3 separate regions of the Homo sapiens genome follow, and all the other regions are reported to be linked to region 2. Evidence: microRNA targets listed by miRTarBase, many of them from high-throughput screens and not tested one by one. Region 2 holds a microRNA gene; each other region holds the end of a gene's coding sequence. Distances are from middle to middle.
Evidence for each region. Region 2 holds the annotated microRNA hsa-miR-1295a (UUAGGCCGCAGAUCUGGGUGA, at 3,047-3,067, opposite strand). A microRNA usually pairs through its seed, bases 2 to 8, with sites in the 3' UTR of a target mRNA and lowers its output. Matches are read on the target gene's strand: a 7mer-m8 pairs with bases 2 to 8, a 7mer-A1 pairs with bases 2 to 7 and ends in A, and an 8mer does both.

Region 1 (4,000 bases), not on the chromosome of region 2:
CACAAGCAGCATCTTCTTCCGGGTCATCTTCGAAGCCGCCTTCATGTACGTCTTCTATGTCATGTACGACGGCTTCTCCATGCAGCGGCTGGTGAAGTGCAACGCCTGGCCTTGTCCCAACACTGTGGACTGCTTTGTGTCCCGGCCCACGGAGAAGACTGTCTTCACAGTGTTCATGATTGCAGTGTCTGGAATTTGCATCCTGCTGAATGTCACTGAATTGTGTTATTTGCTAATTAGATATTGTTCTGGGAAGTCAAAAAAGCCAGTTTAACGCATTGCCCAGTTGTTAGATTAAGAAATAGACAGCATGAGAGGGATGAGGCAACCCGTGCTCAGCTGTCAAGGCTCAGTCGCTAGCATTTCCCAACACAAAGATTCTGACCTTAAATGCAACCATTTGAAACCCCTGTAGGCCTCAGGTGAAACTCCAGATGCCACAATGGAGCTCTGCTCCCCTAAAGCCTCAAAACAAAGGCCTAATTCTATGCCTGTCTTAATTTTCTTTCACTTAAGTTAGTTCCACTGAGACCCCAGGCTGTTAGGGGTTATTGGTGTAAGGTACTTTCATATTTTAAACAGAGGATATCGGCATTTGTTTCTTTCTCTGAGGACAAGAGAAAAAAGCCAGGTTCCACAGAGGACACAGAGAAGGTTTGGGTGTCCTCCTGGGGTTCTTTTTGCCAACTTTCCCCACGTTAAAGGTGAACATTGGTTCTTTCATTTGCTTTGGAAGTTTTAATCTCTAACAGTGGACAAAGTTACCAGTGCCTTAAACTCTGTTACACTTTTTGGAAGTGAAAACTTTGTAGTATGATAGGTTATTTTGATGTAAAGATGTTCTGGATACCATTATATGTTCCCCCTGTTTCAGAGGCTCAGATTGTAATATGTAAATGGTATGTCATTCGCTACTATGATTTAATTTGAAATATGGTCTTTTGGTTATGAATACTTTGCAGCACAGCTGAGAGGCTGTCTGTTGTATTCATTGTGGTCATAGCACCTAACAACATTGTAGCCTCAATCGAGTGAGACAGACTAGAAGTTCCTAGTGATGGCTTATGATAGCAAATGGCCTCATGTCAAATATTTAGATGTAATTTTGTGTAAGAAATACAGACTGGATGTACCACCAACTACTACCTGTAATGACAGGCCTGTCCAACACATCTCCCTTTTCCATGACTGTGGTAGCCAGCATCGGAAAGAACGCTGATTTAAAGAGGTCGCTTGGGAATTTTATTGACACAGTACCATTTAATGGGGAGGACAAAATGGGGCAGGGGAGGGAGAAGTTTCTGTCGTTAAAAACAGATTTGGAAAGACTGGACTCTAAAGTCTGTTGATTAAAGATGAGCTTTGTCTACTTCAAAAGTTTGTTTGCTTACCCCTTCAGCCTCCAATTTTTTAAGTGAAAATATAGCTAATAACATGTGAAAAGAATAGAAGCTAAGGTTTAGATAAATATTGAGCAGATCTATAGGAAGATTGAACCTGAATATTGCCATTATGCTTGACATGGTTTCCAAAAAATGGTACTCCACATATTTCAGTGAGGGTAAGTATTTTCCTGTTGTCAAGAATAGCATTGTAAAAGCATTTTGTAATAATAAAGAATAGCTTTAATGATATGCTTGTAACTAAAATAATTTTGTAATGTATCAAATACATTTAAAACATTAAAATATAATCTCTATAATAATTTAAAATCTAATATGGTTTTAATAGAACAGCAAATTTTAATTTCATCTATCACTTTTTATATAAATACATTAATGTTTTATATTTCATAACACCAATGGGTAAGTTGCCAGAGTGTCTGACCCCATTCTGCCCCAGTTACAGAAAAGCTTCTGTCACCAGAAAGTTTGGTGGGGAAGGAAGGGAGGAAGATGATTTCTACCTAACCCCGTGCCCACCTCTACCAGGTTTTTGAGGCATATCAGTCTATGGACAATGTGGTGTTTGGTCTGGAAACGTACCTTGGTGAATGCTGAGTTGGCTGGACATGACCCGTTTAGCTCCTGGATGAATCCCAGAAGTGGACCTTCAAAATGTTACTCATAGCATGACCTTGGCTCACTGCAACCTCTGCCTCCCAGGCTCAAGCGATCCTCCCACCTCAGCGTCCCAAGTAGCTGGGACCACTGGAGTGTGCCACCACACTCCACTAATTTTTTCATTTTTTGTAGAAACGAGGTCCCACTATATTGCCCAGTCTGGTCTCGAACTCCTGGGCTGAAGGGATCCCCCTGCCTCAGTCTCCTAAAGTGCAAGGATTACAGGCATGGGCCACCGCACCTGGCCTGAAACTGCTTTTTATTCCTCAGTGCCCACTTCCATGGGAAATAAGCCTGCCAGGTCAGCCTGTCCCCATGGGAGTGACTGCCTGCTACCCCCACAGGCTTGCCCGGCCCTCGTGAGCCTCTCCCAGAGACACCACCAACAGTTCTGTTCTTTCATGGTACAAGATTTCCATCCAAGGATTTCAAAGCATTTCACACATCAATAATTAGAAGTATTTTCATAGAGGACCATACACTTTTAAAATGGATTTCAAAGAACAAAAACCAGTCAACTATCACCCAGGTAATAGAAAATGGGAAATGGTTTCTACCTGACTTCCAAAATGCTCTGCACATAGACTGTGAAAATAGGATTTTTTAAGCTGGGTGCAGAGGCTTATACCTATAATCCCAACACTTTGGGAGGCTGAGACGAGAGGATCACTTGAGCCCAGGAGTTCAAAACCAGCCTGGGCAATATAGGGAGACATTGTTTCTATAAAAAATAAAAATGTTAGCCAGGCAGGCGTGGTAACATGTGCCTGTAGTCTCAGCTACTCAGGAGGCTGAGGTGGGAAGATTGCTTGAACCTGGGAGGTCCATGCTGCAGTGAGCTGAGATTGTGCCACTGCACTCCAGCCTAGGCGACAGCAAGATCCTGTCCCAAACAACAACAACATCAAAAAACACAGAACTTTTAAAATAAGTACATTCACTTCTACAAGCTATGTAGATTATTACTCTCAAGCTATTAAAAGACCAAGCCAAAATAATTATGGGCTACTCTCGACCACTTGTAGGAATGGATAGAGAGGTCTGGTCACATGCCTGGAAATTAGAGCTTGAGCTCTGAAAATGATAATCCTGACTATATCTCAAAGCATCAGTCTGCACTTTGTATGGAGCAAGAAAAAGCCTTGTGGAAGCGGCCTCCCACCCAGCCGAGCCCTCGGCGTGGACAAGCTCTGCTTTTTATGAGCAGTGGGTGCAGCCTCGCTGCTCCCTCCTCCTGTCAAAAGACAGTCACAGCTGGGGTGAGCAGATCGGGCCCACTTGGGAGGCCCCAAGGAATATGCTGCAGGGGTCGGGCCTGAGCCACCCCCACGGGTTGGTCTTTGACAACTAGAGAGCAGCTGAGAGGTGGGTAAAAGCTCACTCACTTACCCTGACCTCAGTGTCCTCATCTTAAAATGGGTTTCCTGAATCTTTCCCCGGCTTAGTGGCAATGAAATAAGATAATTTATGTAAACGTTCTCCACATAGTAAAGCACTAAGTAACATATGACTGTCATCTGTTTTCCACTAGACAGATCCCAACCTGGAAGAGTGACAGATGGTATTTCAGATACAAGTGACTCAAGCAAAGCTTGATAAACTGGGGGCTGGAAAAAAATGCACATTTACACAAAGCCTGGAGTAACTGCAGCACAGGCAGGTGAGTCTAGCCACATAAGCCGGGAGAGGAATGGCTGGGGGCAAATATAGCAGCAAAAAAGGATAAGGTGGTGACAGCTATGCGACTCTGTAATTAAAGAAAGGTCAACAGAGTAACGAAGAAGGCCATTGACTCATCTGGTCAGGGTCTCTACACTTTCCATACATCTCACCAAATGCTTTTCCCATATCACCTCATTTGCACCTCGCAGCAGTGCTCTGAAGTCCTAGGCTGTTAGTGTTATTCTTGCTGAGGGCAACAGGAAGGCACTGCTCAG
Region 2 (4,151 bases):
TGAGACGATGGGGTTTTCTAGATATACAATCATGTCATCTGCAAACAAGGACAATTTGACTTCCTCTTTTCCTAATTGAACATGCTTTATTTCTTTCTCCTGCCTGATTTCCCTGGCCAGAACTTCCAACACTATGTTGAATAGGAGTGGTGTGAGAGGGCATCCCTGTCTTGTGCCAGTTTTCAGAGGGAATGCCTCCAGTTTTTGCCCATTCAGTATGATATTGGCTGTGGGTTTGTCATAAACAGCTCTTATTATTTTGAGATATATCTTCTCTAGTTCTTTTAATTGTGATGTTAGGGTGTCAATTTTAGATCTTTCCTGCTTTCTCTTGTGGGCATTTAGTGCTATCAATTTCCCTCTACACACTGCTTTAAATGTGTCCCAGAGATTCTGGTATGCTGTGTCTTTGTTCTCGTTGGTTTCAAAGAACATCTTTATTTCCGCCTTCATTTCATTATGTACCCAGTAGTCATTCAGGAGAAGGTTGTTCAGTTTCCACGTAGTTGAGCGGTTTTGAATGAGTTTCTTAATCCTGAGTTCTAGTTTGATTGCACTGTGGTCTGAGAGACAGTTTGTTATAATTTCTGTTCTTTTACATTTGCTGAGGAGTGCTTTACTTCCAACTATGTGGTCAATTTTGGATTAGGTGTGGTGTGAAACCCCCCAACATCTTATACAATGTTGTGGAGCCTACTGTATGTTATTAAAATGTGTTGACAGGGCTTCAGATTAACACACTGGTGATTCTTAGGGCTTTTTGGTTGTTGTTATTTTTGTTTCTTTGTGGCCAAACTTAGGGCTATTTTATCAAGCACTTTCTATATGACACATGACTTTTTCTATTTAATTAAATATTTATAGTAATCCTATAAGCTAGGTATATTTTTTTTCCTTTTACAAATGAATTTGAAGCTTTAAAAGAAAAGAAAAAAAATCATACAGCTGATAATGGTGGAGAAAAGATCCCAATTCAAGCTTGCCTTTCTCTCTAGTCTATTCTTAACTCCTTTGTAAATTGCTGGTTGCCATTTCACCAAGTGGCCTATCGAGCTGACCATGTCTTTCTTTTTTTTTTTTTTTTTTTTCTTTTTTCTTCTTCTTTTTTTTTAGACAGAGTTTCTCTCTTGTTGCCCAGGCTGGAGTGCAATGGCACAATCTGAGCTCACTACAACCTCCACCTCCTGGGATCAAGGGATTCTCCTGCCTCAGCCTCCCGAATAGTTGGGATTACAGGTGTGTGCCATCACGCCCCGCTAATTTTTGTATTTTTAGTAGAGATGGGGTTTCGCCATGTTGGCCAGGCTGGTCTCGAACTCCTGACATCAGGTGATACACCCGCCTCGGCCTCCCAAAGTGCTGGAATTATAGGCATGAGCCACCACTCCTGGCCAGCCATATCTTATACACAGTGATCTTAACCAAAGCCTCATACTCAAATTTAGTTTGCAAGACGTTGCTGAAGATAGAACGCACTGCTGATATGGCTATTGAGAGGAACACAGCCAAAGACAGCTAATTTGTCTTTTCTTGCTGCTCGAGGAAGACTTTAAAATTTGAACCTGGCAGCATAGGTTGATAAAACTGAACTGCAACATGTGCTACCCTTCAAGAAAAAGAAAGGATAGCCCAGAGGGTAGAGCCTCAGGCCCTGAGGGCAGAGGCCTGAGCCAAAGCCTTCAAGCCTGAAGGAATTTGTCCTACTGGATTTCAAAATTGCTTGGGATTAGTGATTCTTTTCTTTCCTCCTTTTTCCTCCCCGGTTAAATGGGAATGTCGATAACGGTTACCCATGCTTGTCCCACCATTGTATTTTGGAAGAAGATAACTTGTTTTCTAGTTTCACAGGTTCACAGATAGAAATTTTGCCTCATCCTGGTCCATATCCAGAGTCTCATTTATACCTGATTTAGATAATTTATATGATGATGAGATTTTGGACTTTTGAATTGAAAATATATAAATGAGAGTTGAGACTTGATTTCATGCTGCTATGGGTTGAGACTTTGAGGATGTTGGGATTGGGTTAATGTATTTTGCAGATGGGATGGATGTGAATCCTTGGGAACCAGAGGATGGCCTGTAATAGGCTGAACAATTTAACAATGCCCCTCCTCAAAGATATCACATCCAAATTCCTGGAACCTGTAAATGTTATCTTACTTACAAGAGAAAAGGGTATTTGCAAATATAATTAAGTTAAAAATCTTAAGATGGAGAGATTTTTCTGCATTATGTGGGTGAGCCCCAAACGCTATAATGAATGCATCGTTAAAAGAGAGAGGCAGAGGGAGATTTAACACAAAGAGAAGAGAGAAGGTGATGTGATGACCTCAACAGAAAGAGAGAAATTTGAAGATGCTATGCTCTATCTTTGATGATGGCCAGAGGAGCCATGAGTGAAGGCGTACAAGAGGGGTCTTGCCACTGAAAAAAATAAGAAATGCCAGCATCCACCAGAAGCCAGAAGCGGCAAGGAATGGATTCTCTCCTGGAGCCTCTGAAAATGAACATGGTACTGTCACACTTCGTTTTCAGCCTACTGATAGTGATTCCCGACTGCTGACTTCTAGAACTGTGAATCAATTGCTATTATTTTAAGCCATTAACTTTGTGGTAATTTATTACAGCAGCCACAAGAAACTAATACCTTTGGTTTTTCAGCGTTTCCTATTTTACTACTGTGAGGGGGCTTATAGATTGCAAATGATGGAGCAAACAGCAGTGTTTCTCAGATCACTAGAAGTCTGCAGCAATAGGCTTAGTATTCACATTATAAGATTGTTATAAAATTGTTCTAATTTTGTATTTGCCTTCCCTTTGGTTTCTAACATCATCATTTTACATTATCTTAACTTTTTTTAAATTTCAGAGAGATCCAAACATTGGTTAAAACTTAGCTAACACTAAGGGTGCATATAGTTGAAACTGTTGGAGCTGTTTACTACAGCACTTTCTATGCCCTTCTAGTTCTGACTTCTAACCCTGATCTAGAGCCACGATGATGTATTTCCCTCACCTTCTTTGGTCACAGAAGGAGGACATTTCACCCAGATCTGCGGCCTAATCACAGGCCACATTTCTGAATAGGCCACGGATCTGGGCAAAATGTCCTCTTTTCTCAGGAGCTCCCCAAACAATAAATCAGTAAATCATATGAATTTTTGCATGAAGTTTTATGAATAGTGGCTTTCTTCTGGGAATACCTCCCTTTTTTAACTTCCTCTGATTTTTTTCTGGACTATGTATCAATTTTTTTCTTTAATGTTTCTTCTCTCTTTATGCTGATTATCATCTCTTTAAACTTACCCAACTCACAGAAAGCTACAAATTTTTGCACTTCCCCATCCCACATGCCTATAGCAGAGTCAACAAACCATGTGAGCAGCAGAAAACTCATGTCCTATTTAAAGAACACGCTGCTTTCTGAAATGAACATGGCAACTAATCTGCCAATTAATTATTTGTCAATAATGAAACTGCAGCCACATTGGCTTTTGACGTGATTGTAATATTCCAATATTATACTAAAATTTCATGTTCTGGGAGCCCTGACAACTTTCAGTTAGATGAGCTCTAATTAGAAGTTTCTAGTGCTCAGTACTTTCCACTATGAACTAGCAACTACACATAGAGATCTACAATCTGATCTTTCATCATGAAACTTGAGATATAAGTACCTTGATGCTTCAACAGAGCTAAACCAAGGCTCCACCTCTTCCTAATCATGCTCCAACCAGTATTTTTTTTTAACTTAATGCCTTTTATTCATTCAACAGCTTGCTTTGCAGAGCTCACAGCTGTAACAGATGTGTCCTATGGTAAGCTCTTCCACAGTAACTGTAGCCTGTTGGTCATGAGCTTCCATTTGTTGAACTCTACATTGTGACTGACAAACTTGGCTGCACCTTAAAATTACCTGAAGAGCTTTTAAAACTTGCTGTCAATTAAATCAAATTCTCTGAGAGTGGGACCTAATGCTCAGTGTGTTTTTTAAAGCTCCCAGTTTATTTCAGTGTGTGGCTAAAGAACCACAACACAATATCCTAAACTTCTCATTACTGATCATTCTTTCTTCAATGTTCTTTTTCTTTATTCATCATCACTTAACATTTCCTCTAAGGCTTTATTAGCATAGTTCTATAATTCCT
Region 3 (4,000 bases), 130 Mb from region 2:
GCCCAATTCGTACCTACTTGGTGACAGCACGCAGTGCAGCCAGTTCCGGGGCCCGGGCTCTCAAGACCCTGCGCAGCTGGGGCCTGGAGACAGATGAAGCCTTGTTCCTTGCTGGAGCGCCCAAGGGCCCTCTCCTTGAGAAGATCCGCCCACACATCTTCTTTGATGACCAGATGTTCCATGTGGCTGGGGCTCAGGAGATGGGCACTGTGGCCGCCCATGTGCCTTATGGTGTGGCACAGACACCCCGGCGGACTGCACCTGCAAAGCAGGCCCCATCTGCACAGTAGCTGAACCACCGGCTTTACTGATCCACATTGCTCCAGGCTCCCTGACATACTTCGACACCTCCTCTGGTAGATCCCTCTAGTTTCTCACTGTTCTGTCCTTCTGCCTGTCTGCCCTCATCCCTATGAGTGATGTACTTGTAGGAAATTATGCAGACGGGTCTGGCATTCTCAACATCCCTCCTTTGGGGCAAATTCTGTGCCATGATCCTGAGTAGGAGAGTAGGACTGTGCAGAGTAGCTGGATTTCAGGGGGGAAGTTAATGGGTCTGAGAGGGGGAGGGTCAGAGAAGCCAGGATTTCTCAATAGTGACTTAGGATGAAAACTAGCTCAATGTGGTGTAAACAACACTGCTATGGGAGAGAGTGGATCTGGCTTCTAAGCTCTGTCCTGGTATTAACTGCATGACTTTGAGTAATCCCTCCCCTTCATGGCCCCCAGTTTCCCCATCTTTTGGGCAGTTTTCAAGCTCCCTTTTAGCCAAAGAAGCTTGGTTCTTTAAGATCGCCCTCTTAGAAGGAAGCATTCTGTGTCAGTGCTGCTGCTGGTATGTATGGCACCTTTGTGCAAATTACAAAAGGACACTGTCTAGGTGAATGAAGAACAAAAAGACATCCCTTCCTCTGGCCTGACCCAGTCCCATAGTGGGGTACACAGCTTAGTTAGCAGGATAGAGGCTGGATTTCAGCCCCCATGTGTCCCCTCAGCTCAGAGGCCTTTCTCAAATGGACAAAATGCAAAATCGCCCCCAGCAACTCTATCTATAATTTTACACATTTTGAAACCACTGGACAAGATGACCTATCTGCTCATGTGATTCTCTAACCTGAATGGTCATCAGGGCTCAGCCCAGGAAGCAAGGGGAGTGAATTGGACACGCATACAAACTCTCCTCCAGCCAGCAGGGGGCACTGCAGGCTCTTCCCGGGAGAAGCATTAGTAGCTGCCTGCTCAGTGTTTCCTTTGCTCTTGCTTTGAGCCGAAGTTCAGTTGCTCTTGCCTGCCAAGACCCTCACTTCCACCACCCTCATTCCTCCAGTTATTGCATCCTGTTGAGCAGCTCTGCTGGTGGGGAACGGGACAGAGCATGGGTGTCTACTGTTGTGGCCTCAATTCTAGGGGAAGAAAGTGCAGTGGCTGAGGTAGGCGGTTGTCCAGGCTGAGCCCCAGGGTGAGGTGCTGCCTGGGGTGAAGTGGGAAGTGTCAGGAGGTCTGGTGTGAGACAGAAGGTACTGAGACAGTGATGCTTGGAGAGGAAGGAGCTGAAATGTGCACTAGCAAAATTCTCCAGCTATGGGATTGTTAGTGGAAAGCCAGTCAGAGCTGCCTTTGGAGGTAATGAGCTCTCCATCAGTGGATGCTGAGCAAGGGCTTCCAGGATGAGATAACCTCCCCATGAAATGCATCAGCGGATCCTCCACATTTGCAAGAGCCCCTGCGGCCCCTTCTTCACCACTTTCAGAGGAGAACTCTCACCGCTTGATGAGTCAGCCTCCTCCTTTGCTGAGCATCCCTGGCTCTCTCCAGAGGGAGGGTGGAAGCACCAATGGCTGGTCCCCAGGGAGACAGAAGGGGTGAGCAGACATCTGTGTGTGGACTGATTGCCAGGCTTCTAGGAGGAATCCTAGTCATGAGCAAGCACTTTGTAAAGAAAACCAAAAGTATCATGAGAGGGGCAGAAGCCTGGAGATGTGGTGGTAGGAAATAGGGGAAGAGAACACCCTGGGGTTTTTGATCTTTGTCCTTCTGGGGACTCAGCTCAGGGTCTGAAAGGGCACAGGTTCTGTGCAGTGTGGGGCAGGGTAAGAGATGCAGAAAGATATTCCAGGAAGGAGAACAAAGTGAGAAGGCAGAGACGGTTCTCAAATGAGCAACGATTTGGGCCAGAAGAGAAAGGCTGGGCTGAGTTTTTACTGTCATTGTCAGAGGTCTCCATGAGGCTGGTCCCAGGGAGGAAGGGTATGGCTGTGTGGAGTGACTGGGACAGATACCCACAGTGACTGCTTTATCAGGGGACACTGGCATTATTGCCCCTGGAAGGGCATATGATAATGTCTTTGCACGAGGTCATTTCCACTGCACAGCCAGGATCCTTCTGGCTAACAGAGGAGGCCTTGGGGCAGAAGACCCGGGTTGTGTCTACTTCCAGAGCTCCAAGCCTAGACAGAGGTACTGTGAGGGCCAAGAACAACCTCAAGGAAACAAAAAAGAAGTGAAGGAGGGAGCTCAGCCCTGAGTCTCCTTTATTCTTGGCTGAACTGCAGAAAGGCCCTCTCCTTCTCACTCCCAGGGGTCAGAATCACCCCCGTGGAAGAGCCTCCAAGGCTCACAGAACCAGTGACTGCAAGAAGCCTACAAGGCCGGGCACAGCCCAGGCTCACAGCATGGCAACAGGCTGACTGACCAGGGTGGACCTGTGCACTGGGGACGGCACCAGATGTCACCTAATTAAGAAAAACTGCAGGGATTCTGGGACCTGTGTGGTCTTGCCCCCAGGGCCTGGTGATGAACACCACTGATGATTCCATGTCTCTCAGGAAGCAGGAAAATATGATGCTGGAAGCAGAAAGATAAGGTGCAGTAAAAGCCATGGATTTCACTGGAGCCATCATTAATAGACACAGACAGCCCTGGGCAATGGAGAAACACTAAGAGTCTAAATTCTATTATTGAAATCACAAATGAGCATCTCAGGCCTGGAAAAAAGCTTTCAGTCACTGGAATAAAAAGCCAGAAATCTGAGGGGCAGTCTTAGGCAGCAGTTACACGGGCCTTCTGATTGTCTTAGAGGTGAGGAGGTGCCCAGGGATGAGGAACATTGAGTGTTGTTCACCAGTAAATTAAAAAGCCAGGTGAACACCAAAGTCCCAGGCCTAACCAGGGAATGCAGCACTGAGGTGGAGCAGCCACGGCTTCTGAAACACTGGACCCCTTTAGCTGAGAGCACCACTTCCCCAACAAGCCCTGCAGAACACTGGTTCCAGGAGATGCCTGCCAGCAAAATCCCAGAGCCAATGGGACTGCTGCTTAGCAGAAAAATGGAAGCCCTGTTACTAAGCACTGAGACTGCTCAGCCAGTTGCAAAACATCCCCCTCTCCTATCTGAGAGCCCAATCAGAGTAGTGGGGATATATCAGAATGTGCCAGAAAAAAATAGAAACTAGCAAGAAGTTCAAAGCCAAGATGGATTTGGCATTATAATGACACTCAATTGGTGTGCACCAGTACAGCCAAACTGATGACTAAAACTTGAAATACCTCCATAGCAGTTGGTAGATAATGCTGCGCTGAGTCCCCTGAATGTCTCCTCGTGGCCTCAGCTGACCTTTCCACTGTGAGCGCTCCATTTTCCCACAATGCAGCCTCTAGGAGGCTGCAGCGGCACTATGGCCAGTGTCTACTCTGTTTTGTGGTGTCCTGGCCATGCTGGTTTAGGGAGGCAAAGTAACTTGTCCAAAGCCATAGAGCTAGTAAGTGGCAGTGCTGGGACTCAAACTCATGTCCATCTGATTCTAGGACCCAGGTTTTCAACCATTTTGTCATACTGCTCATACATATGCATGGAGATAGCCAGAGAAGCTCCATTCTGAGGTCTTCACTAAAGGAGTTTACTTACCTGACAGTTAATATGTTGATTTCCTGCATGGTGAAATGCTGGAATACATTTGAGTGCATGCTTTTATTATAGCTTCCTAAACACCTACAAATAATT

Region 1: the mRNA of GJB2 is a reported target of hsa-miR-1295a. Seed matches in the 3' UTR shown: 7mer-A1 at 477-483.
Region 3: miRTarBase lists NT5C1A as a target of hsa-miR-1295a. Seed matches in the 3' UTR shown: 7mer-A1 at 3,159-3,165.

The regions. Positions count from the first base shown.
Region 1 is chr13:20,185,175-20,189,174 of GRCh38, reverse strand. GJB2 (gap junction protein beta 2) reads left to right here. Exons shown (of 2, transcript NM_004004.6): 2 at 1-1,705. The coding sequence ends at 274. It overlaps LOC107984553 (a long non-coding RNA gene), which reads left to right and starts at 2,984. Exons shown (of 3, transcript XR_001749956.2): 1 at 2,984-3,723.
Region 2 is chr1:171,098,692-171,102,842 of GRCh38, forward strand. It overlaps MIR1295A (microRNA 1295a), which reads right to left and starts at 3,115; the gene lies at 3,037-3,115. The region is part of intron 2 of FMO3 (flavin containing dimethylaniline monoxygenase 3); the gene reads left to right. It overlaps MIR1295B (microRNA 1295b), which reads left to right and starts at 3,048; the gene lies at 3,048-3,107.
Region 3 is chr1:39,655,411-39,659,410 of GRCh38, reverse strand. NT5C1A (5'-nucleotidase, cytosolic IA) reads left to right here. Exons shown (of 6, transcript NM_032526.3): 6 at 1-4,000. The coding sequence ends at 290. Among named protein-coding and RNA genes, the nearest start is that of NT5C1A, 15 kb to the left of the region's middle. RefSeq lists enhancers at 1,040-1,334, 1,286-1,355.